Linked DNA regions of Homo sapiens. The protein of the gene in region 1 interacts with the protein of each later gene in a pairwise test. Each region holds a gene or a part of one and is shown in the gene's direction. Other genes may lie near its edges. The genes, in order: ZNF330, ZNF250, CHIC2, ZNF683, ZNF23, ZNF460 and NR4A3.

The links.
Region 2: the proteins of ZNF330 (region 1) and ZNF250 interact in binary tests that used the Homo sapiens proteins (3 or more experiments, as listed by UniProt).
Region 3: the proteins of ZNF330 (region 1) and CHIC2 interact in binary tests that used the Homo sapiens proteins (3 or more experiments, as listed by UniProt).
Region 4: the proteins of ZNF330 (region 1) and ZNF683 interact in binary tests that used the Homo sapiens proteins (3 or more experiments, as listed by UniProt).
Region 5: the proteins of ZNF330 (region 1) and ZNF23 interact in binary tests that used the Homo sapiens proteins (3 or more experiments, as listed by UniProt).
Region 6: the proteins of ZNF330 (region 1) and ZNF460 interact in binary tests that used the Homo sapiens proteins (3 or more experiments, as listed by UniProt).
Region 7: the proteins of ZNF330 (region 1) and NR4A3 interact in binary tests that used the Homo sapiens proteins (3 or more experiments, as listed by UniProt).

The regions. Positions count from the first base shown.
Region 1 is NC_000004.12:141,223,895-141,227,394, forward strand, and holds part of ZNF330 (zinc finger protein 330), read left to right. Parts: intron 1-592; coding exon 593-612; intron 613-712; coding exon 713-783; intron 784-2,872; coding exon 2,873-2,952; intron 2,953-3,500.
Region 2 is NC_000008.11:144,887,954-144,891,453, reverse strand, and holds part of ZNF250 (zinc finger protein 250), read left to right. Parts: intron 1-1,050; 5' UTR 1,051-1,104; coding exon 1,105-1,146; intron 1,147-1,379; coding exon of another isoform or gene 1,380-1,394; coding exon 1,395-1,521; intron 1,522-1,759; coding exon 1,760-1,873; intron 1,874-3,500. UniProt on the Homo sapiens protein: May be involved in transcriptional regulation.
Region 3 is NC_000004.12:54,016,106-54,019,605, reverse strand, and holds part of CHIC2 (cysteine-rich hydrophobic domain-containing protein 2), read left to right. Parts: intron 1-3,500.
Region 4 is NC_000001.11:26,362,751-26,366,250, reverse strand, and holds part of ZNF683 (tissue-resident T-cell transcription regulator protein ZNF683), read left to right. Parts: intron 1-1,024; coding exon 1,025-1,719; intron 1,720-3,096; coding exon 3,097-3,225; intron 3,226-3,500. UniProt on the Homo sapiens protein: Transcription factor that mediates a transcriptional program in various innate and adaptive immune tissue-resident lymphocyte T-cell types such as tissue-resident memory T (Trm), natural killer (trNK) and natural killer T (NKT) cells and negatively regulates gene expression of proteins that promote the egress of tissue-resident T-cell populations from non-lymphoid organs.
Region 5 is NC_000016.10:71,447,097-71,449,672, reverse strand, and holds the end of ZNF23 (zinc finger protein 23), read left to right. Parts: coding exon 1-1,580; 3' UTR 1,581-2,076; downstream 2,077-2,576. UniProt on the Homo sapiens protein: May be involved in transcriptional regulation. May have a role in embryonic development.
Region 6 is NC_000019.10:57,283,485-57,286,984, forward strand, and holds part of ZNF460 (zinc finger protein 460), read left to right. Parts: intron 1-1,066; coding exon 1,067-1,193; intron 1,194-3,500. UniProt on the Homo sapiens protein: May be involved in transcriptional regulation.
Region 7 is NC_000009.12:99,831,885-99,835,384, forward strand, and holds part of NR4A3 (nuclear receptor subfamily 4 group A member 3), read left to right. Parts: intron 1-804; coding exon 805-934; intron 935-1,397; coding exon 1,398-1,570; coding exon of another isoform or gene 1,571-1,648; exon of another isoform or gene 1,649-2,417; intron 2,418-3,500. UniProt on the Homo sapiens protein: Transcriptional activator that binds to regulatory elements in promoter regions in a cell- and response element (target)-specific manner.

The DNA.
Region 1 (3,500 bases):
CATGGAGAAGAGAGAATATAAGACATATTTGGAGAATGGCTGACCATTAGTGACTTGAGTCTAAAAAGAATAGGCCAAGAAGGTTTGGAAAGTGATTAGGGGCCAGATTGTGGAGAGCTTTTAAAACCATGTTTAGGAATCTGGATTTTCTGTGAACTTTATTATTTTGTATTCTCTTTGGAACGGTGCCTTAGATAAATGCATTATTTTAAGGGTCACCCACTTCATTTGGAATAATATGTGCTTAACGTTTCATAAGGCTTAGAATGTACTTAACTATCAAAAGGATAGTTCTTGTGTTCATTCTGTGGTATTTTATTCCTTACAAACAATTGAAAAAGAAACTACCAATGTATTTAGCCTCCTTTGTGATAATGCCACTTCTTCAGGGAATCATATACCCGGAGTATCACTCTCGCATACCTTTGTTATTTTAAGCATGGGTAGGTGCTTGTATACATGGGTGGAGTTGGGGCTTTGGTGTAGTGTCACTTAAATTTTAACCTGAAAAGCAGGTTATTCTTTGTAATACAAGTAAATTTGCAGTTTTCAGTCAGCAGAAAAATTAATGTGATATTTTTATATGTTACAGGAATGTGACAAGTGTCAGAGGTAAATTTTATTTCTTTTTCTATCTACCTTTAATAAAATTGTCCCTCTGACTTTTTATCTGACATTGACCATAATTTAAAATTTTATTTTACATGACAAGGCGGCAGAAGAATAGAGCATTTTGCTACTTTTGTAATTCTGTACAGAAGTTACCAATTTGTGCACAGTGTGGTAAGTTTGTAATAATTAAGGACATATGCTTTTTATCAACTGGTAGTTCAACAATTTGAACTTGGGTGGGTTTGTTGCTATTGGTTACAGTGCTTACAATTGTTGATAATATTATGCCTTACCATTAACAAAATAACAAAACATGTTATTTTGCCTACCAAAAAACTATCAAGCCTTGGTTTTGTCTCTTTGATGTAATGCTGGAAAATAATTAAGGTACAATTTAGATACAGGTTACCAATAAGTGTTTTTAAACAGTGAAAGATCAGATTTCAGACATAACATTTGGTGATCCTGAACTTTTAGTTATACTACCTTAGTCTTGTCAGTATCTGTTTGTTTACTTATCTACATTTTGATTCCTGCTGATATTACCTGCAGTGTGTTAGACCATTGGGAATAATTTTATTCCACATTTACCTGGTACTTATTTTGTGATCAGTAGTTTTTGTGTTTGATGCTTACCATATGATTCATGAGTTTCCTCACATGTATTCCCAGGTGATTTAAATAGAGTTCTTAAGTCATGTGCCCGGTTCTTAAGTATAGGTGGAGACTTGTACCCCAAAATGATTATACAAAATAAAACTAAATGTTAGCAAGATGGGTGTTTCCCAAATAGTCTTCCACAGACTTCCTGAAATATTAATGGATATTTCTTGAAAAATATATATCGATATACATTTGAGAAATACTGCATGCATCCTCCTTTCATTCTCATCTGGGAGATTTCTATTATATATTTATATGTTAGAAGTTCTGAAGACTTGCAACAAAGAAACCCAATTAACTTTATTACTCTAGATTTACATCCCCCCCCAACTTTTGATGAACAAGTATTGCTTTTATTTATGAGATAATAATAATAATTTCAGGTAGAACAATTTGGGGTATGCTCATTTAAGTGTGTTTATATGTAATAATATTCCAGAAAGTTAGTAGTGTTTAGGGCTATATCCCTGAATATTTCTAATGTAGTTCTAGCTTTCAAAGAAGATCTTTTCAATTCCACAATTAATGAAAAAGAGAAAACTGGCCTATATGGAACACTCATATGGTAGTTTTCATAGCCTTGTTTTGCAAAAAGTAATGAATGTAGAGTGAGGAAACAGAGTTTGTGGAAGATTAATAGGTAAGTTCTTGCTAGGACTTACCCCTATTTTCAGTGTCTCTGGGCTTAAATTTTGTAGTGTTGTTAGATGGATACATTTCTCATTTACTGATTCTTAGTGTTGGACATGGAACAGTTGGGTAGCTGCTGCCTCTCATTTCCAGTTTCTCTTCCCATTTCCTACTAACTTTGTTCCTTAGGAAATCAAGATAACGGAAAATTGTTTCTTTTGTGTTCCATTTTGTGGAGTCTCAGATGGATGATTAATGTCATCATTAACTCTCACATAATATCTGATAAGCAAATTTCCTGATAGTGTTTTGAGTTGGTAATTTAATTTGCTTCTAGATCAGAGGTTTAGTGGCTGTGTGGTGATTTGTAGCTGTATCACCGTATTGTTTATTGTGCTTATTTGGGCACTATTTCAAAATTTTGTTGGGAAAATGTTTAACTGGGGGCTTCGTTGTAAATTTTTATGTTTGGATAAAATTACATTAACTCGATAAGTTACATAATCATTATTTGGTTTGGTTTGAGGTATTATTCTGTGGAAAGAAATAACTTCAAACCACAGTTTTTATTGTGAATTATAAAATGTAAAATTTGTTATAAAAAGCATTCCTTTAAAAATTGTTTTGAATAATCTGAAGATTGATAAGTTTTTAAACTGTTAAAATGATCATTAGATTACAAAGCATAACCTGCAATTTCTGATTTAGTACAAATTAGCATATATATTGTATAGTTCATTTTACAGATTTATTAGTAAATGTATAATCTGAAAAGTCTGATTCGAGTAATGAAGTCTCAGTTATATCCATTTTCTCTTTCTAGTTATGTAAGCAGTAAATACTGATTCAATTTCATTAGTTTTTAAATTATTTCCTCAGGAACTTGGGCTGGATAAAAGGAGGAATTCGTGAGTACTGGTATGTATTCCTTTGCAAGACTAACAGTGCAAATGTTTTTCTTCATTAGGGAAAACAAAGTGCATGATGAAGTCTTCAGACTGTGTCATAAAGCATGCTGGTGTATACAGTACTGGCCTTGCAATGGTGGTAAGCTTCTTATTATCTCTTAGACTAGTACGTTTTCAAGGATAAGAAAATGTCATTCTGATCAGTGGTTATTTTTTTCTAAATATCATTGCTTTGTCCCTTGTTTCAATCAATCTGTAGTTATCTGGATTATGAGTGGCATGCTTTTTGTATGATTTTCCCTTAGTACCCACTTGTTTCTAGCTGCTTCTTTCTTTCTTATTAGGGAACATACAAGGCATGGAAACTTTTCATGCTGATCTAAACAGAATTTCATTTCTCAGTGGTACCTTTTTTTTTTTAAATTTTATTATTATTATTATACTTTAAGTTTTAGGGTACATGTGCACAACATGCAGGTTTGTTACATATGTATACATGTGCCATGTTGGTGTGGTGCACCCATTAACTCGTCATTTAGCATTAGGTATATCTCCTAATGCTATCCCTCCCCCATCCCCCCACCCCACAACAGTCCCCGGTTTGTGGTGTGTGATGTTCCCCTTCCTGTGTCCATGTGTTCTCATTGTTCAGTTCCCACCTATGAGTGAGAACATGCGGTGTTTGGT
Region 2 (3,500 bases), on another chromosome or scaffold:
ATGAGCCACCGCGCCCACCTATATCTGATGTTTTATAGACACTGAGATTATGATGTCCCTTGACTTCTGCCCCCAGCCCTGACACCTATTTTGTCACTCTTAAAGCACCCTGTTTGTTGTGGTGCCCATCTGAGCCAAGCATGTGAGGGGATTGGTTGCTTTGTTATACCACGTTTTTCTGGAGTGATCTACCACCTTTGGTCACCTGGTTGGTTTCTGTATCCCTGTCACAGTATCTTCTTTTTGATGCTCCAGAAGACTGCGAACCCTATCCTGTACAGGACCAAATGTGTCAGGAAAGCTCTTGCCCCGCTCCCCCTTTTTCCCAGCTGTTTGGGTGTGTGTCAGATACCTTTGCTTACCTTGTCCTGTTACGTTCCAGCACCAGCCCCACTACCCCAAGCATCCCCTTCTCACTTGATGACAAGTCTTCCTTCAGCTGCTCAGACCAGATCCCTAGGCCACTGTTGACTCAGTTTGTCCAGAACTGACCACTTCCATGCCTCCCCTTCAAATACCTGGTTGAACCTGGTGCCACATTGGGGCACTAGGGCTGCCTAAGGGTGGGGTGAGGGGAGTCTTATTGTCACCCTGGTGGCCAAGGCTTTCTTAATTGGGAGGGTGTTTGGGGAAGCAGCTTGGCCTGATGCCTGTATCCCCCACATGACTTGCGGACAGTCTGGTACTTGTGTGAGGGCCTCAGGTATAGAACACACAGAGCCTTGGTGAGCTGGTATCCTTGTGTATGGCAGGACCATGGGCCGGGACCAGGGTGCAGCAAGTGCCTTGCACCTGGTGTTCAGAGAGCCCAGTACTAGCTGGGCAGGCCCAGGAACTGTGTGTTCAGGGCCTGGACAGGCTCCTGAACCATAGGGTCAGAGTTCATGGGGGAGGCAAGGCAGACCAAGGCTGCAACAGTAGCAGCTCCTTGCACCTGACCTCAGTGTGCCCCTCAGTGACTCTGAATGAGGCCCAGGGATCCCCTGAGGGCCCCCTAGGAAGTTACGGTCTCAAGGCCATGCCCCTCACTTGCCCCCTCCTCTTCCTCAGCCCCATAGGCTCCTTCAATTTCCGTGATCCTCGGAGTCCCCAGGAGACCAGGTGATGGCAGCAGCCAGACTCCTGCCAGTGCCGGCAGGACCCCAGGTAAGCTGTCCCCAGTGCTTATGCAGTGCCCCCAGCCCGAGCCCTGTGGTTCCTTCCGTGCCCCGTAGAGCTCCTAAGAGCAGCCAGAGCGTCACCACATGCCCTGAACTCCGCGGCCCCTTCCCATCACCCACCTCAGCTCACAGAGCCCCCCACTGCCAACTGCTCATGTCACATGTCACATGCACCCACTCCCCATCACAGACATCAGGATTTGGTTTTACCTGCAGCAGCCCCTGTCGTTCCAGGCCAAGCTGACCTTCGAGGATGTGGCTGTGCTCCTCTCCCAGGATGAATGGGACCGCCTGTGCCCTGCTCAGAGGGGTCTCTACAGAAATGTGATGATGGAAACCTATGGGAATGTAGTCTCATTGGGTAAGCCACCTTAGCAGGCCTCGTCTATGTATCTGCGTATTGGACTGGGGTGGGGGCTTCTCAGGGTACGGGGCCTGGGACAGGCTGGTCCTGGAGGTTTGCTCTCATCACCTCTCTGGGTGCTCAGCTCCAGCAGAAGATCAGTCCTGTCCATTTTCATGTCCCCACAAGTGGCTTGGGCAGGGGGAGGGGGCTCTGTAAATGTTGTGTAAACAAAGACTTCCCTCCCCACGAGCAGGACTTCCAGGATCCAAGCCTGACATAATCTCCCAGCTGGAGCGAGGGGAAGATCCCTGGGTCCTGGACAGGAAGGGGGCTAAGAAGAGCCAGGGCCTGTGGAGTGACTACTCAGGTGAGTGAGGAGAGCTGGCCCCTCCCTCACTGAGGGCTAAACAGGTCCTGAGCAAAGCTGTGGACCTAGTTCATACTGTGCCGCTCACTGGAGTGGCTTCCACCTGGAGTAAAACCTTATCTGGCCTTATCTGGCAAAGGAGTCTATAGACTGGGGGTTGCTGAATCAGGTGGCAGCCCATGGCTGGAAGTGAGCATAGCAGTGAATTTCAACAAGCTGATGTGCAGAGCCATGTAGAGGAAGTTAGGGCATGGCTGCAGTGATTCTGTCCCTGACCAGAGGGACTGGTTAGCCAGATTTGGTCCTAATAGGACATTCAGGTTTTGAGAGTTACCTGATGATTTAGAAAATAACAAAGCATCCTAAATGTGGAAAGGAAGTGTCTCAACCTGACACTTAAGGTGAAGTGCTGAAAGCACACTGTTTCATCTCAGAACAAGACAAAGAAGCCCGCCATCCCCATGTCCATATAATGTTGTACTGGGTATCCCATGTACAAAATAAGGCAAAACCGGCCAGGCGTGGTGGCTCAAGCCTGTAATACCAGCACTTTGGGAGACTGAGGCGGGTGGATCACGAGGTCAGGAGATCAAGACCATCCTGGCTAACACGGTGAAACCCTGTCTCTACTAAAAATACAAAAAATTAGCCGGGCATGGTGGCATGCACCTGTAGTCCCAGCTACTCGGGAGGCTGAGGCCTGTAGTCCCAGCTACTCCCAGATTCATGGCGTGAACCCGGGAGGCAGAGGTTGCAGTGAGCTGAGATCGCTCCACTGCACTCCAGCCTGGGGGACAGAGCATGAGACTCTGTCTCAAAAAAATAAAAATAAAAATAAGGCAAAACCAAAGCTATAAGAATTAGAAAGAAAAAAGCATTGTTTGCAGTTTATGTGATTGTCAACCTGGAAAATGATTGATTAAAATTCACAAGGGAAATTACCAGTTTTGCTGGATACAATTTTTTTTTTTTTTTTTTTTTTTTTGAGACAGTCTTGCTCTGTCGCCCAGGCTGGAATGCAGTGGCATGAGTCTCGGGTCACTGCAAGCTCCGCCGTCTGGGTTCAAGCAATTCTTACGCCTCAGCTTCTCGAATAGCTGGGATTACAGGTCCATGCCCCTATACCCAGCTAATTTTTGTATTTTTAGTAGAGACAGGATTTCACCATGTTGGCCAGGCTAGTCTCGAACTCCTGACCTGAAGTGATCCACCTGCCTCAGCCTCCCAAAGTGCTGGTATTACAGGCATGAGCCACTGCACCTGGCCAGAAATGTTTTATTTATATTTGTCAGCAACCAGCAAAGGTGTAATATTTTAAAAGATAACATTTATAATAGCATCAGGAATATAAAGCATCCAAGAATTAATCTAACAAAAGATGTACAAGACCTTTAGATGGAGAAAATTATAAAAAGAAAGATGGTGCATAGATCCAACCCTGAAGTTCATGTTTGCGGTTGCTTAAGGCAAAGAACCTCTGACTTCAGTAAGGTGACGTCTGAGTCTTAGGAAAACCTCAGTCAGCCTGTCCTGCCATAATGTGCCCCACTTGGGGAGAGTAGGGACAGTTTGGGCAACACCTCCATTGGCTGATCAGCTTCAGCATTTCAGATGTGGTGGTTTTCCC
Region 3 (3,500 bases), about 87 Mb from region 1:
GCAGAGAGAGAATCCCTATCTTTCATAATTCATAACCAGTATAACCTAAACAAGTTAATATTCTCTCACTAGCCTAGATCGTAAACTTGATGAAATTCTGTTTAAGATTAGCACCTATTAAGACACTGCTCAGTACTAGAGGATATTTTTGATTCACAAAATTTTAGCAATTTTTTTTAGCGTATTTCTATCTAAAAATATTACTTTTAACAAATAGCACATGATACTTCAGTGGGTGTTTTAATATATCTAGATTATTTAAAAGTTAATGTTCATATTAAAATTTTAAAAGGTGCTTTAATGTACAGGAAAGGAATTTGTTTAAAAATCCTTTTGAGAAATCATATTCTAGTTTTTTTTTGTTTTTTGGTGAATCTAGGCTTTTCACGTAGCATAATACTGTGATATAATTATTTAATTTTCTGCACATCACTGGAATATAAAATTTCATATTAATCCAGAATGAGCAGAAGTGAATAATATAATTTCCTCTTAAGTTCTCTTATGTTAAAATAATTCATTTTAAATTATATATGGTTTCTCCCTAATAACTTACAGCTAAAGACATTGTTTTACTTAACAAATTCAATTTACACAGATGTCTAAAGATGAATAGCATTCTTATTTGAAAAATATAAGTTAAAAACAAGATTATGAATATATTCAAAACATTTTAGTTAAAGGTTAATTAATGCATTATAGATTTAAGAGTTTAAAATTTAAGTAGGGAATTGAACATTTGAAATTTTGCTTTCCCATTTTGTGATGGTATGAATAAATCCAATTCAAATACATTTTAATTATAGGTTTAAATAGGTGAACTTTTATAAATAGTTATTAGTGAGTATTCTGTACATTTTATTAGCATATCATAGCATATTTTTGTTCTAAAGACTGATAATACTATTTTATTGGGAAATATTAAGATAAACTTTGTTACAGTTTCTACACTTAACATTTTTTTTCTTTAGCTCTCAATACTCTAAAATTTATGAGATTTCCATTGGTTTTATTAGTAATGTCTAGAAAACCACTTCTTTGTAAAACCATGTTTTCAAACAATTGATTGTGATTAAATGAGTCATTGGGAATTAGGAAACTCTTAAGTAACCAGTGGTGGCAAAGTAGGAGATTAATACCTTAAAGATTTTCTAAATGGCTCTTTGCTGTCCTGGAAGACTAATTTATATCTAATGGCATTTAATTTGTTTATAGGGAATAATATTAATAATTTATTCCTAAGAAAGTTACAGTATTTAGGAAAAATTACAAAAATACATAATAATTCAAATTTGAATTTTCAGGAAATCTTAGTTTTCTATTGCAGTAATTGAGTTTGTCTAGGTGTATGTGTGCTTTGCTGTTATAAGCTTACTTTAGATGCTTCTTTGGAAGGTATGTCTTATTTGGGTATGTCTTATCTAATATTGCTGATTAATCATTACCATATTAGCCATTTTATGAATTACTGAGGCCCTTTTAGTTCTCTTTCCGTTTTCATGTTTTTCCTATTTTCACAATTCTACCAAAAATCTAAAAGGGACCAAAGGCAATATAAATAGAAGCCAAAATTTCTATTCTTATGTTACTACTACTTGTTGCTCAACTTAAGTCTGTTTAATACCTATTCAGTAATTGAAATGATATTTTTTAAATCTCCTGTTAATTTTTACTTTCACAAAGCTGAATGGCTGTATTAAAACTAGTTCACCAATGAGAAAAATATAACCACTAAGGTGTGGAAATGAAGAAATGTGTGTTTTGTTTTTGTTTTTGTTTTTGTTTTTTTAAAGAAAAAGGGTTATTTAAAGTGAGCTGAGGGAGATGGGTGGGATCCAGATGCTTGGAGCTGTCTACTTCCAGACCAGGTTAGTAACATGACGCCATTCACACAAAAAAGTTGTTTTTCCTGCATATTGTGAGTTGGTGGTCTTGGTCCTTTTAATTAAAGATAAGAATACTTGATAAAATTACATTTCTTGTTGATCATCTTTTGCAGAAAGACGGAGAATTACATTGGTAAAGAACCGCTAACCTGTCCCCTCACCCCCAGGGTGTGAGCAGTGAAAAGGATTAAGGCCCACTGTAGGGAAGCTTACACTAAAGCCTGCACTGCCCCTTCCCCTGTTCTTTCAGCTAAATAGATTTTTAGTTCCCATGACTATCAATCTGGTGCTTTTCACAAGCACTAAATTCTCTTAAAGAAAATTAAAGATGACTTATTTTTTTAGAAACTGGCCTGGAATACTGAAAGATGGTGTTTTTTGGTACTTTGTTTCATGTTGACAGATCCCATACATATTTTTTTCTGATGCATGTTAATTTGCTTCAGCTTGTTTTGAATTTGGAGTTGAAATAAACATTTAAAAACCAAGGACAGGTTGTTATATGATTAGATTTGCTTGTCCACAGTTAGCAAGTGTAGAGTTCGACACTGTTGAATCTTACATTTCATTAGAAATAGCTACCTGACAGCCTTGTGGACATAAACTCTTTAACTTTTATCTAGATGACTACAATTATAAAGTGCTTTCTTTTAAAAGCTTTTAAGTAGCTTTTATAAATGCTGAAGTGTCATTTTTTTTAGTATCTGCCAAATTGGTATTGTATTTAATCTTGAAAATATATTTTGATTTTCTTAACTAACAATAATTGCATAGTATTAAACATTCTCAGTAGCTCAACCTTTTTTTTTTCTATTTAATTTGAGCTTTTGTTGTTACTAACAAATAATTTGTGGCACAGTTTCTTTCCTTTTTTTTTTAAATGACTGCTAGAATCTATATACTTGTCACCTTAGTGTGCTAGAAATGTTCCACTCAAATCAAGGGTTCCTTTCTGGTTTTGTATGTTCTCACCTGCTCCTCACTGTAAATCATTGAGATGTCAAGTGCAATGATTAATTAAGCTGCACGTGCAAGTGCTTTTTTTTTCACCTGTCAAGCAGGAAAGAAGTCTTATAGCAAAATTAGATGGTGCTAATTCACAGCTTTTACTTCAGACTGTGAAGTGTGTAGAAATATTTTATATTTATATGCTTATTCAGAATGTGGCATATCAGGGCTTGTTTGTTTTATAATTCTTAAATATTGTAAGATACAATTATTATACCAAGCCCTATCATTAAACTCCTAATTATAAACAGAGAAGAAATTCAGAATTCCTACTTAAATATTTTGGAATTCAAGATTTATACTTTGTAATTATCTTTTATTCAAATACTAGTAGTTGATTTAAGTTAAAGTAAATATTTTTAAGTTTTAAAATTGTGTGTATGTATGTGTCTATATATCATAATGAGATCTATTCTTATTATAGCATGGGTTTAAACTTCTGATGAAATGATGGTGGTAACTACATTTTTTTCTTTAAGTAATAAGTATTTGCAGAATGTAGTATTAAGCTTTTGGGTACTATTTTATACATTAATATAAAACAGTGGGCTTGGAAAACTTGTTCTGCTCTAGTTCTTTCATCATCCACCCACCCCCAAAATCATC
Region 4 (3,500 bases), on another chromosome or scaffold:
GCTGGGACTACTACAGACACATGCCACAAACACCCAGCTAATTTTCTTTCTTTCTTTCTTTCTTTTTTTTGAAACAGAGTTTCGCTTTTGTTGCCCAGGCTGGAGTGCAATGGCATGATCTCGGCTCACCGCAATCTCTGCCTCCCGGGTTCAAGTGAATCTTCTGCCTCAGCCTCCCAAGTAGCTGGGATTACAGGCATGTGCCACCATGCCCAGCTAATTTTGCCTTTTTAGTAGAGACGGGGTTTCTCCATGTTGGTCAGGCTGGTCTTGAACTCCCAACCTCAGGTGATCTTCCCGCCTCGGCCTCCCAAAGTGCTGGGATTACAGGCGTGAGCCACCGTGCCCAGCCTTAATTTTCTTATTGTTTTGTAGAGATGGGATTTTGCTTTGTTGCCCAGGCTGGTCTCAAATTCCTAGGCTTAAGCAATCCTCCTGCCTCAGCCTCCCAAAGCACTGGGATTATAGGCATGAGCCACTGCACCTGGCTGACAGTTTATTTTTTAACAGGTTTTTTATTTTAGTACTCTTTATCTAGAATAGCACTGTTTGGTAGAACTCCCTGCAATAATGGGAACATTCTATACCTGTGCTGTCCAATACTATACCTGCTGAGCACTGTAAATGTGACTGGTGCAACTGAGAACTTCATTTTTTATTAGAATCATTGTAATTAATGTAAATCTAGTCATGCATCCAGTGGCTGCCATTTCGGACATAGCAGATCTAGCCTCACCCTTATGTGATCTTATCTGTGCCCATGGCACCTGGATTTATGTCTCCAGTTCAGACCTCTCCTTTAAACTCCAACCCAGTTTATCCATCTGCCCACTTGGCTTCTCAACCTGGGTGTCTAATAGGGACCTTGAACTGCTTTCTCCCCCTGAAATTGTTCAGCACTACAGAAATGCTAGCAGGCTCGCAGGCTGGAGGTCTTTCTCAGCCCCGAGCAGGGCAGGTTTGATGGCGGACAGAACTTCACCCCAGACTGTGGGGATCTGACCGCCTTCCTTTTCCTGCTTAGAGCACGAGCCACCAGGGCTGCAGGCCAGCTCCACCGATGACAAGAAATTCACAGTCAAGTACCCACAGAACAAGGACAAGCTGGGAAAACAGCCAGAAAGAGCTGGCGAGGGGGCCCCCTGCCCAGCCTTCTCCTCTCATAACAGCTCTTCCCCACCACCGCTGCAGAACAGAAAGAGCCCCAGCCCCTTGGCTTTCTGCCCCTGTCCCCCTGTCAACTCCATCTCCAAGGAGCTCCCATTTCTCCTCCACGCCTTCTACCCTGGATACCCACTTCTCCTGCCTCCACCCCACCTGTTCACCTATGGGGCCCTACCTTCTGACCAATGTCCCCACCTCCTCATGCTGCCCCAAGACCCCTCCTACCCCACCATGGCTATGCCTAGCCTGCTGATGATGGTCAATGAGCTGGGGCACCCCAGCGCTCGGTGGGAGACCCTGCTTCCCTACCCAGGGGCCTTCCAAGCCTCTGGCCAAGCTCTGCCTTCCCAGGCCCGAAATCCAGGTGCTGGAGCTGCCCCAACCGACTCCCCAGGCCTGGAGCGTGGTGGCATGGCATCTCCAGCAAAGCGGGTCCCATTGAGTTCCCAGACAGGCACCGCAGCCTTGCCTTACCCGCTGAAAAAGAAGAATGGCAAAATCCTGTACGAGTGCAACATATGTGGCAAGAGCTTTGGGCAGCTCTCCAATCTCAAGGTATCTGCCTCCTGGGCTCTGCTTCTCCCCTCAACATCCTTCAGGGCCCCCCATGCACCCGAGTCTGCTTCTAGAAGCAAGGACCTCAAAGCTAGAAGGCACTCCTGGGCAACCTCTAGGGCCAAGTGACCTTGGATGGTTCATTTGGGTGGAGATATCGGATAAGACGGCCACCAAAGTCCTCGCCACCCTAGAGGACTGCCTATGAGATCGTCTCATTTAGGTTAAAATGGGGAGACTGAGGCTTTTAATGGGCAGCGTTTGCCTAAGATTACCCCGATTTAACGGTAGTGTTAGGTTTAGTCTCTCAACATTTGCTCTGGGCAAAGAAAGCCCTTACCTGGACAACCATCCTTTCTGGACTCCAAGTTAAGCTTCTTATTTATTTTTTTGGGCAGTCAGATGAGGGAATGGGTAGATTTTGGTGAGTCTAGACCACAGTCCGATGACCAACCTTTTTCAAGTGGGATCCCACAAATCTGCGCGACCGCCGATGCGATTGGCCTCACCATCCGCATCGCCCAGCAGGGGGCGCCCAGGGAGCGCATCTCAGTGCGTTAGCAAAGGGCGGAAACTGTGCGCTCTCTGGCTAGTTCTGAAGTTGAAGGCACATTGTGGTTATGGGGAGAAGCCCTGCTGGATCCTGCAGGGCAGGAGTTCTTAAACTTTCATGAGCCTCAGACCACCTGGAGAGCTAGTAAACATGCAGATTCCTAGAGTTTTTGTGATCCTCCCACCTCAGCCTCCAGAGTAGCTCCCAGCCCCAGAGTTATCTTTTTTTTTTTTTTTTTTTTCCATATGGAGTCTCATTCTGTCGCCCACGCTGGTCTCAAACTCCTGGGCTTAAGGGATTCTCCCACTTCATCCTCCCCGGTAGCTGGGACGAAGGGTAAACACCACCACTCCTCGTTAACTTTCAAATTTTTTGTGCATACGGGGTCCCAATGTGTTTCTCAGGCTGGTATTGAACTCCTGGGCTCCATTGATCCTCCCTCCTCGGCCTCCCAAAATGCTGGGATTACAGCCACGAGAGTGTGCCCAGCCCTCCCAGAGTTTTTGATTCAGCAGGTCTGGGGCCGGACTTGAGAACCTGCATTTCTAACATGCTCCCAAAGTGTGATACCAGCACTGCTGGTCTGTGAACCACATTTTGAATAGCAGTGTTCCACAATATACCTGGGGTACCTCTTACCCCTGGCCTTCTGACCACTGCCATCTCCCCTACAGGGCAGCAGAAAGAGTAGAGTATCCTGGGGATGATGGGCCCTGAGGGAGATGACGGGGAGGGAGAGAGAAGTGGGCAGAGATTTGGAGAGGACCTCAGGCCCTGCTAGGGGTGCTGGGCAGTTGGCAGCATTTATCCCGCATCTGACTCAGGTCCACCTGCGTGTGCACAGTGGAGAGCGTCCATTCCAGTGTGCCTTGTGCCAGAAGAGCTTCACTCAACTTGCCCACCTGCAGAAGCACCACCTGGTGCACACTGGGGAGCGGCCCCACAAGTGCTCGGTGAGATCCTTCTCCCCCTACTATGTACTCCTATAGGCTGGAGAGGAGTTTTAGGCCCTTGGAGGGCTGGCACCTGCAGCCTCCATTCCCCAGTCCTCCTGAGCAAGTGGAGATGGGAAGGGGGAGTGAAAATTGAAAATGACTCCTCTCAGCCTGGAATGGGTAATACTGAAGGTCACTCCAAAGGCCTGCAGGAGGGAGAGAACAATGAAGTTGGAGGTCATGGAGAGTGTATGTATACCCATTATCTACCTCCCTGAGTTATTGGAGGAGTT
Region 5 (2,576 bases), on another chromosome or scaffold:
AGGAGTGTTTTTTTAGTCAAAGTTCAAACTCATATCAGTGTCATACCATCACTGGAGAGCAGCCCTCTGGGTGTACAGGATTGGGGAAATCCATCAGCTTTGATACAAAACTCGTGAAGCATGAAATAATTAATTCTGAGGAAAGACCTTTCAAATGTGAAGAATTAGTAGAGCCCTTTAGGTGTGACTCTCAACTTATTCAACATCAAGAGAACAACACTGAGGAAAAGCCTTATCAGTGTTCGGAGTGTGGCAAAGCTTTCAGCATTAATGAGAAATTAATTTGGCATCAGAGACTTCACAGTGGGGAGAAACCCTTCAAATGTGTGGAGTGTGGGAAAAGCTTCAGCTACAGTTCCCATTATATCACACATCAGACAATCCACAGTGGGGAGAAGCCCTATCAGTGTAAGATGTGTGGGAAGGCCTTCAGTGTTAATGGAAGCCTAAGTAGGCATCAGAGAATCCATACGGGAGAGAAGCCCTATCAGTGCAAGGAATGTGGAAATGGCTTCAGCTGTAGTTCTGCATATATTACACATCAGAGAGTCCACACTGGAGAGAAACCTTACGAGTGTAATGACTGTGGGAAAGCGTTCAATGTTAATGCAAAATTAATTCAACATCAGAGAATCCATACTGGAGAGAAACCTTATGAATGTAATGAATGTGGAAAAGGCTTCAGGTGCAGCTCCCAGCTTAGGCAGCATCAGAGCATCCACACAGGAGAAAAGCCCTATCAGTGTAAAGAGTGTGGAAAAGGCTTCAATAATAATACAAAACTCATTCAGCATCAGAGAATCCACACAGGTGAGAAACCCTATGAATGCACTGAATGTGGAAAAGCCTTCAGTGTCAAAGGGAAGTTAATCCAACACCAGAGAATTCACACAGGCGAGAAACCCTATGAGTGTAATGAATGCGGGAAAGCCTTCAGATGTAACTCCCAATTTCGGCAGCATCTGAGAATTCACACTGGGGAGAAGCCCTATGAGTGTAATGAGTGTGGAAAGGCCTTCAGCGTTAATGGGAAACTAATGCGGCATCAGAGAATTCACACTGGGGAGAAACCTTTTGAATGTAATGAGTGTGGGAGATGCTTTACTTCTAAAAGAAACCTACTTGATCATCACCGAATCCATACTGGAGAAAAGCCCTATCAATGTAAGGAATGTGGGAAAGCCTTCAGTATCAATGCCAAACTAACTAGGCATCAGAGGATACATACTGGGGAGAAACCTTTCAAATGTATGGAATGTGAGAAAGCATTCAGCTGTAGTTCTAACTATATTGTGCACCAGAGAATCCATACAGGAGAGAAACCCTTTCAGTGTAAGGAGTGTGGAAAAGCCTTCCATGTTAATGCCCATTTAATTCGGCATCAGAGAAGCCACACTGGGGAGAAACCCTTCAGATGTGTGGAATGTGGCAAAGGCTTCAGCTTTAGTTCTGACTACATTATACATCAGACAGTCCACACTTGGAAGAAACCCTATATGTGTAGTGTGTGTGGGAAAGCATTCAGGTTTAGCTTCCAGCTCAGTCAGCATCAGAGTGTCCATAGTGAAGGAAAATCCTAATAATGAGAAAGATATAGAAAACTCTTAAGGTTAATGCCAAAATGGATCAAGTATCATCAGATTCATCCATTGAAAAACCTCCAAGAGGGCATGAATATGGCAGAGTCTTCATATGGAAACAGTTTTTATTCTATTCAGTTTAAATCAGGAAAGGATGACCAGTTAAAGAGAAACATCCAAAAATAGCTTTGTTTTGTACCAACAGGAATTAGAAAATATAATGAAAAGATTTCGTTCCCAGCAGCATCAAGAAAAGTAGATTTTCTAGAAATAAACAGTTATGGAGGACTTGTATGGAGAAATTTAAGTCTTCACTGAGGGCCACTTTACAAAGGAAATTTGAATAAATGGAGAGAGAGAGAAGCCTTGTTGTTGGATAGGAAAACCCGTACTAAAGATACTCTACCTACATTAATTTATTTGTTTAATTTTTGACAACAAGCATGTATTACTTTTGAAAAGATGAAAAATAAAGATTTATTTAAAAAAGGAAAAAGGTATGAGTACATTTTTAATTTTCATGTAATTGAGAAAACCTTTCTAAGTATTAGATGAAAGCTAGAAACTATCCACAGGGTATGTACTGATAAATTGACTACTCAAAAACTAAATATTCCTGTATGTTTTTGTTTTAAAGTTTAAAAGATAAAGCGCAAAATGGGGAAATACTTTTGTAAAATTTGTGATATAAAAGTGTAGTATTTGGGCATGGTGGATCAGACCTGTAATCTCAGTGCTTTGGGAGGCTGAGACGGGAAGATTGCGTGAGGCCATGAGTTCCAGACCTGTATGGGCAACATAGCAAGATCCCATCGCTACAAAAAATAATAAAAGCCAGGCGTGGTGGTATGTGCCTGCAGTCCTTGCTGCTTGGGAGGCTGAGGCAAGAGGATCACCTGACTCCAGGAATTCGAGGCTGCAGTGAGCTATGACCACCACTGCACTCCAGCCTGGGTGGCAGTGAGACCCTGTCTCTTAAAACATTAATATCTAAAG
Region 6 (3,500 bases), on another chromosome or scaffold:
TAGTTCTTTTGACTATTCTTTTTTTTTTTTTTTTTTTTTTTTGAGACAGAGGCTCGCTCTGTTCTGGAGTACAGTGACACAGTCTTGGCTTACTGCAACCTCTGCCTCCCAGGTTCAAGCGATTCTCCTGCCTCAGCCTCCCTAGTAGCTGGGATTGCAGGCTTGTGCCACCACACCTGGCTAATTTTTGTATTTTTAGTAGAGATGGGGTCTCACCATGTTGGCCAGGCTTGTCTCGAATTCCTGACCTCAGGTAATTCATGTGCCTCAGCCTCCCAGAGTGCTGGGATTACAGGCATGAACCACCGTGCCCAGCCTTGACTATTCTTGATGAAGTGGGAAACACGGTTATATTGACCTGGAAATGGAGGCTCGGCGAAATGAAATGAGGTCCCCAAGGTCACATAGCAGGCACACGTTGATTTCAGGAATTTGGTTTTAAACCTCAGGAGTCTGGCTCCTGAGCTGGGGAGTTTCAGTCACTTTACCATGGCATGTAAACCTGTCAGCATGAGGCAGGCACACAGGGAGGATTGGTAAGACTCAGATACTGTTCCTGTTATTGTTGCTGGTGGTGATGTTTTTATTATTATTATTTCCCATTCCTCTAATATGTCAGAGCACTTACTGTCTGTGCCTCTCAGTCCACTTGGGATTGTCCTAACCTTATTTCTGTGTTAAGTTCAAGTGGCTTCCTGCCTAGGAGGCTTTATTTATTTATTTATTTATTTATTTTTTATTTATTTATTTATTTTTTTTTGAGACAGAGTCTTGCTCTGTTGCCAGGCTGGAGTGCAGTGGCACGATCTCAGCTCACTGCAATCTCCGCCTCCCAGGTTCAAGCAGTTCTCCTGCCTCAGCCGCTTCTGTCTCCTCTTCACTGCTGTAATCCATGCAAGGCAGTGTCCACATTCCCCTTGATCCTAGCACAGATCTTGGCCCTTTGGAGGTGCTTGGTGATTTGGCCTTTGATTCTCTGTGCATCTTTTGCAGTGCTGGAGTGACAGGTTCTAATCCTATTCCACAGTTGCAAAGGAAACATTACTGGTTCTTTTTGACTTTTCAGGAGTCTGTGACCTTCGAGGATGTGGCTGTGACATTTACCCAGGAGGAGTGGGGGCAGTTGGACGTGACCCAGAGGGCCTTGTACGTGGAGGTGATGCTGGAGACCTGTGGGCTTCTGGTCGCACTGGGTAAGGCCTGTCCTCTCCTCTCCAAAATCAGGGGCACCAGAAAGCAGCTTCATTCTAGCCTTCATCCTGGCTCCAGGCCTGGCTAGTGGAATAGGTCTTGGGAGCCAGCCCTCCTGTTTCCCAAAGCTTTACTCTATTTTTTTTTTTTTTTTTTTGGAGACAGAGTTTCGCTCTTGTTGCCCAGGCTGGAGTGAAATGGCGTGACCTTGGCTCACCACAACCTCCGTCTCCCCGATTCAAGTGATTCTCCTGCCTCAGCCTCCAGAGTAGCTGGGATTACAGGCATGTGCTCCCATGCCCAGCTAATTTTGTATTTTTAGTAGAGAAGGGGTTTCTCCATGTTGGTCAGGCTGTTCTCAAACTCCCGACCTCAAGTGATCCACCCACCTCAGCCTCTCAAAGTGCTGGGATTACAGGCATGAGCTACCACGCCCAGCCTCATTTTTTTGACTCACCTTATTCTTCCTGATCTCTTTGTGTCTTACTTAGAAAGGGTTGGCTACGAAATATAGTTTGCTTTTGGTCACAGCCAAAGGAGAGGGATGTGTTACCAGGAAATGGGATGTTTTGTAGAACCCAAAGGCAGGATTTGCAGCCAGGCCCCCCTGTGGCACTAATACTGGTTGTCTGGTGCTGGCTTCCCTTTATGGGTCTGCTCCTGTCACTGTCTTTTTATAATGGCTTTTTCTGGCTCAGCTATTGTGTGGAACGAAGTGACCGTCTAGTCTTGTTCTCTGAGGCTCACACATTCCTTGGCACTACTACTTCCTGCATATTTTTGTTGTCTCTCTGTTGATACTCTTCTCACTTAATTCTCCCAGCATCCCCATCGTCAGTGAGTAAGGATAATAGGGCCATTGCAATGAACACCTCAGAAACTTAATTAATTCAGTTTAAGAGATAAACCTTCATTGTGAGATGCTGTTCGTTGCATTTTTTTTCTTGGTAAAGGTTCTTTCTTTTGTGATGTGTTGATTTTGATGTTTGTGCAAACGTCTATATGTGGCCAAATCGCTATTTGGAGTTCCCTCCCAGTTTTTTATTTTTCAGTGGTTCATGAAATGTCGAAGCGTGGAGTCACCACGTCTACCCCTCACTCTGCTGCCCTGTTCCCTTAGGATTGAGTTCTTCCACTCATGTCTCCCATTCTTTATGGCCTCCTTGTTTTGAGACTCCTGGCACCACACGGGGGTGTTCTTCATTTCCTCTGAGCACAGCACTTGGGAGACCAAGGTCTGATGCCTCAGAGTCCAATTCCAGCTCTACTTTTTGTCAGCTGTGTGTTCCTGGGCAAAGTACTGAACTCCTCTGTGCCTTAATTTTCTTTTTAGAATTTTTTATTTCTTTATACCCATGCCAGTGCAGAAAAGTGCCTCAATTTTCTCATGGGTAAAATGGGACAATATGTGCCAAAAAAGGCATACGTTTGTTTCATTGTACTTTGCTTTACTGCACCTTGCAGTTACTGTATTTTTAGAAGTTGAATGTTTGTGGCAACCCTGAATTGAGCAAGTCTGTCCCGCACCATTTTTCCAACAGCATGTGCTCACTTTTTGTCTGTGTCACGTTTTGGTAATTCTTGCAGTATTTCAAATATTTTTATTAATATTATATCTACTGTGGTGGTCTGCGATCAGTGGTGTTTGATGTTACTATTGTAATTGCTATGGGGCACCATGAACTGCACCATGTAAGACAGCTTTATCAATAAATGTTATGTGTGTTCTGACTGCTCCACTTACTGGCCATTCCCTCTCTGTCTCTCTCCTTGGGCTTCCATATTCTCTGAGATACAACAATAATGCAGTCAAGTCAATTAATAACACTAAAATGGAAGCCAGATGCCTCTAATCCCAGCTACTCCGGAGGCTGAGATGGGAGGATTGCTTCAGGCCAGGAGTTCGAGACTAGGCTTGGCATCATAATAAGACTCCATCTTTTTTTACTTTTTGAATAAGCTATAACTCATATGCTGTGTTGTGCAAAAATCCTAAGAAGTCCAGGCCAGGAGTGGTGGCTCACACCTGTAATCCCAGCACTTTGGGAGGCTGAGGCGGGTGGATCTCCTGAGGTCAGGAGTTTGAGACCAGCCTGGCCAACATGGCGAAACCCCGTCTCTACTAAAAATACAAAACAATTAGCCAGGCGTGGCGGTACACACCTGTAATCCCAGCTACTCGGGAGGCTGAGGCAGGCGAATCGCTTGAACTCAGGAGGCAGAGGTTGCAGTGAGCCGAGATCGTGCCACTGCACTCCAGTCTGGGCGAAGAAGGAGACTCTGTCTCAAAAAAAAAAAAAAAAAAAAGT
Region 7 (3,500 bases), on another chromosome or scaffold:
ATTTTTTTTACAATATGGTTACTGTGTCTATGTCAATAGACATTTATGAAATGACCTATTAATAGGAATTTTCACTGAAAATATATGGCTGTCATATATCTTTCTTTGTCTCATTTTTCGTTTGTACCTTGGGGTTTTTTGTTTTCTTCCTTGGATATAATAATGATTTGTAATAACTACTTTTAAGATTTTGCTTTGAAAAATCAGGAATGGACTGTTTATCATATATGGTCTTTAAAGATAAAATAAGCTATACAGGCTGATTAAGTTAGTTTTTTTGCATTAAAACATTATTTCCTATATGTTTTAATTAGAAAAATCCTGATTTTGGTTTTTATGATTTCATCTCTGTTGGGTAACAAAGCCAGTTACTGTGATATTTGACTTACAATAGTGATAGCAAACAAAGTACATCCCAGATAATTTTGATTTTATTTTAATAAGGTCAGCAATAATCAGGGGAGTGGAACAAGTAGAAAATTGTTCCCAAAGGGATATTAAAAGTGGAGATAATCTAATTCTCCAAGGTATGATATGTTGACCTGGTAATTTCAGATATGATTTTATCATTCAGAGTTGGGTGTCTCCTGAGACTTGCTTTAGAACAATCCGAGATGATTTTCATTGTCAGCAGCTAACACTAATAAAATTGTTTTTCCTGCAGGCTAGCGTTTTAGGAAATTAAATTTATCGAATTATACGAATTGCACTGTCGCTTTTCACATTGTAATTAAAATACATCTTGTCAGGTCCTACCTCTTTCCAGAAACTATCAGTTGACTATCTTGTATTATATTTTCTCAGAGAACAGTGCAGAAAAATGCAAAATATGTTTGCCTGGCAAATAAAAACTGCCCAGTAGACAAGAGACGTCGAAACCGATGTCAGTACTGTCGATTTCAGAAGTGTCTCAGTGTTGGAATGGTAAAAGAAGGTATGGATATAATGCTTTTTACCCAGTTTGCTTATACATATTATCAGAAATCAGTGAAAAAAAGCTAATATTTACATTGGGATGGTGAATTTTTCTAGTTCCTTTTTCCTTTCAACATTTTATTTTTATCATATATATCTACATTTTAAAATAACTGAGGACTATTTATTCTAATTTCTCAAAATTAACAGAGGACTTGTATACATACATCTTTGTTCTATTTAAGAAGGAGACTTTTAGGGCTAATTCATTACCAAATGTAAATATCGGTGGCTTTTATGCTGCTTGTTTCAACTCTCATGAAATCATTGTGTGAATATTATTCCAAACTTATTACCACTTTTAAATGGTTGGTCTCATTAATGATTGCTCAACTGTAATGTGTTTTTATTCCTTTTTGCGATTTATGGTCGTTCATTCCATAATCTTTGAAGATTGTTTTCTTTGTCTCTTTTGGCATCAGTTGTCCGTACAGATAGTCTGAAAGGGAGGAGAGGTCGTCTGCCTTCCAAACCAAAGAGCCCATTACAACAGGAACCTTCTCAGCCCTCTCCACCTTCTCCTCCAATCTGCATGATGAATGCCCTTGTCCGAGCTTTAACAGACTCAACACCCAGAGATCTTGATTATTCCAGAGTAAGTTTTATGATTTCCTGCTTTCAAATGAATGATCAGGGTCTCTATTTATGGCTACTAGTAATAAGAGTTGATTGAATGATTTTGTGTCTGGCACCATGTTAGACAGTTTTCATACTTTTTCTATATTTCTCGCTTCATTTAGCAATTCAGTGCATCCATTGCAGCAAATAATTTTTGCCTTATTGAATCTCTAAATGCCTTAACAAGTGACCCTGACAGTGCTGCACCTGTCATACACATTGTTGCAGGATTCCTGGTGGTTGTGCCAATGAAAATCTGCACAGACAAACTACAATTTGTAGATTTATCTCGTGATCTAGACAAAGTGACTACTGTTTTTTTTCATATTGTGTTCAAACCATCTGGGTGAGCCTCAAGTTATTACTAAGCAGTTTATCCAATTGCATCAGCATTGATTGACCTGCTGCTTATTCAGAGGGATTAGACCATTGGTGGAGAGAAGCGAGCTCTGGCTGTGACATCAGTTGTCAGGAGAACTGGGATGGAACGCCACCTCTGCTACTTCCTGCCTGTGTCACCTGGTTCCTGCTTTTGGCTCTCTCCTGCCTACAGTGGAAATGGCTACAATATTTAACCTCAGAGGGGTGTTCTGAACACCAGTCACACAAGAATGATGGTTGTGAAAATGTTTTTAAGACCATAAATGACGATTGGTGTTGTTATAGTTAAGTCAACCAAAACATATCAACATTTTTATTTCATATGGGATATAGTAAAATCCCATCAGTCTGAACCCTGCAAATTCCTCAAAATTTGGATAACACAGAGAAGAACCATGAGAAAGGATTTCCTGAGCAAATGAATAAACAGCTCTGTAAGGCAATTTCTTTAAAGGACTTAGAAAACTAAACTTCTAGCAAAACAGGGTCTCAATGAAGAGGGAAGAGAAGGAAAAAAAATCACAATTATTGAGCAGTTTCTATATGCTAGACATTGTGGTACATTATCTCATTTAATCCTTTAAACCACCATGAATTGTAGGAATCATTATCCCTCCTACTTGAAGGAAAACAAAAACAAAAACAAAAACAAAAAACCTTAGAAACACAGCTTGCACTCAGATAAAGAAATACCAGTCCAGAGGCCCCCAGTCGGTTGATCTGTCTTGGTGGCTACTACCAAACTGCCCTCCCCAGGTCTAATCAGTGTTTCAAGCTTCTGGCTGAATGGCTGGCAAACAGTGTGAGTGTGTCCCTGCTATGTGCCCTTCTCCTTAGGTTGCAGTGTTGATAGAAATGATTAGTGTACCTGCTGTGATCCTCTTTCCCTCTTCCCCACCCTCATTATAGGCTGCGAAGCCTCCTCTCTGCACCTGATAACAAAACGTCATATGAGAAGCATGGTAGATCCTTAGCATCAAAGGTTGAGGACTCTTATTCTGATTATAAGTAGTGGCTCTTGACTACAATCAAGTCTCAAATAATAGTGTAAGAGAATAAAGCAGAATAATAAGACTAAGTTAACAGTTTAGGCTTCTTTGGAATCATGCGGGCCTAGATGAAAATCCCAACACTGTCCTTTACTAGCTAAGTGACCTTGAGCAACTGATTACACCCTTTGATGCCTCAGTTTTCTCCTCTGTGTTGTGGGGTAATAGTAATATCTACTTCCTGGGGTTGTTCGTGAAGATTAATTAACAATTATACTTGTCAAAGCTTTAGCACAGTGCCCTGTATGTTATTTCCTTGGCCAAACTTTCTTACTCTGCCATTTGTTCAATGTCCTAATGAGCATGAACACTACATTAGGTATCATGCAGAACACTCTAAAGATAAGTATTATGATCTCTATTTCACAGATAAGGAAATTTAAACTGGGAGAGGCTAAAGGGCTGACTTGCCCAAGGTCACTGAACTAATATGCAGCAGAGACAGAATTAGGAGCCAAGTATATTAAGAGCCAAGTG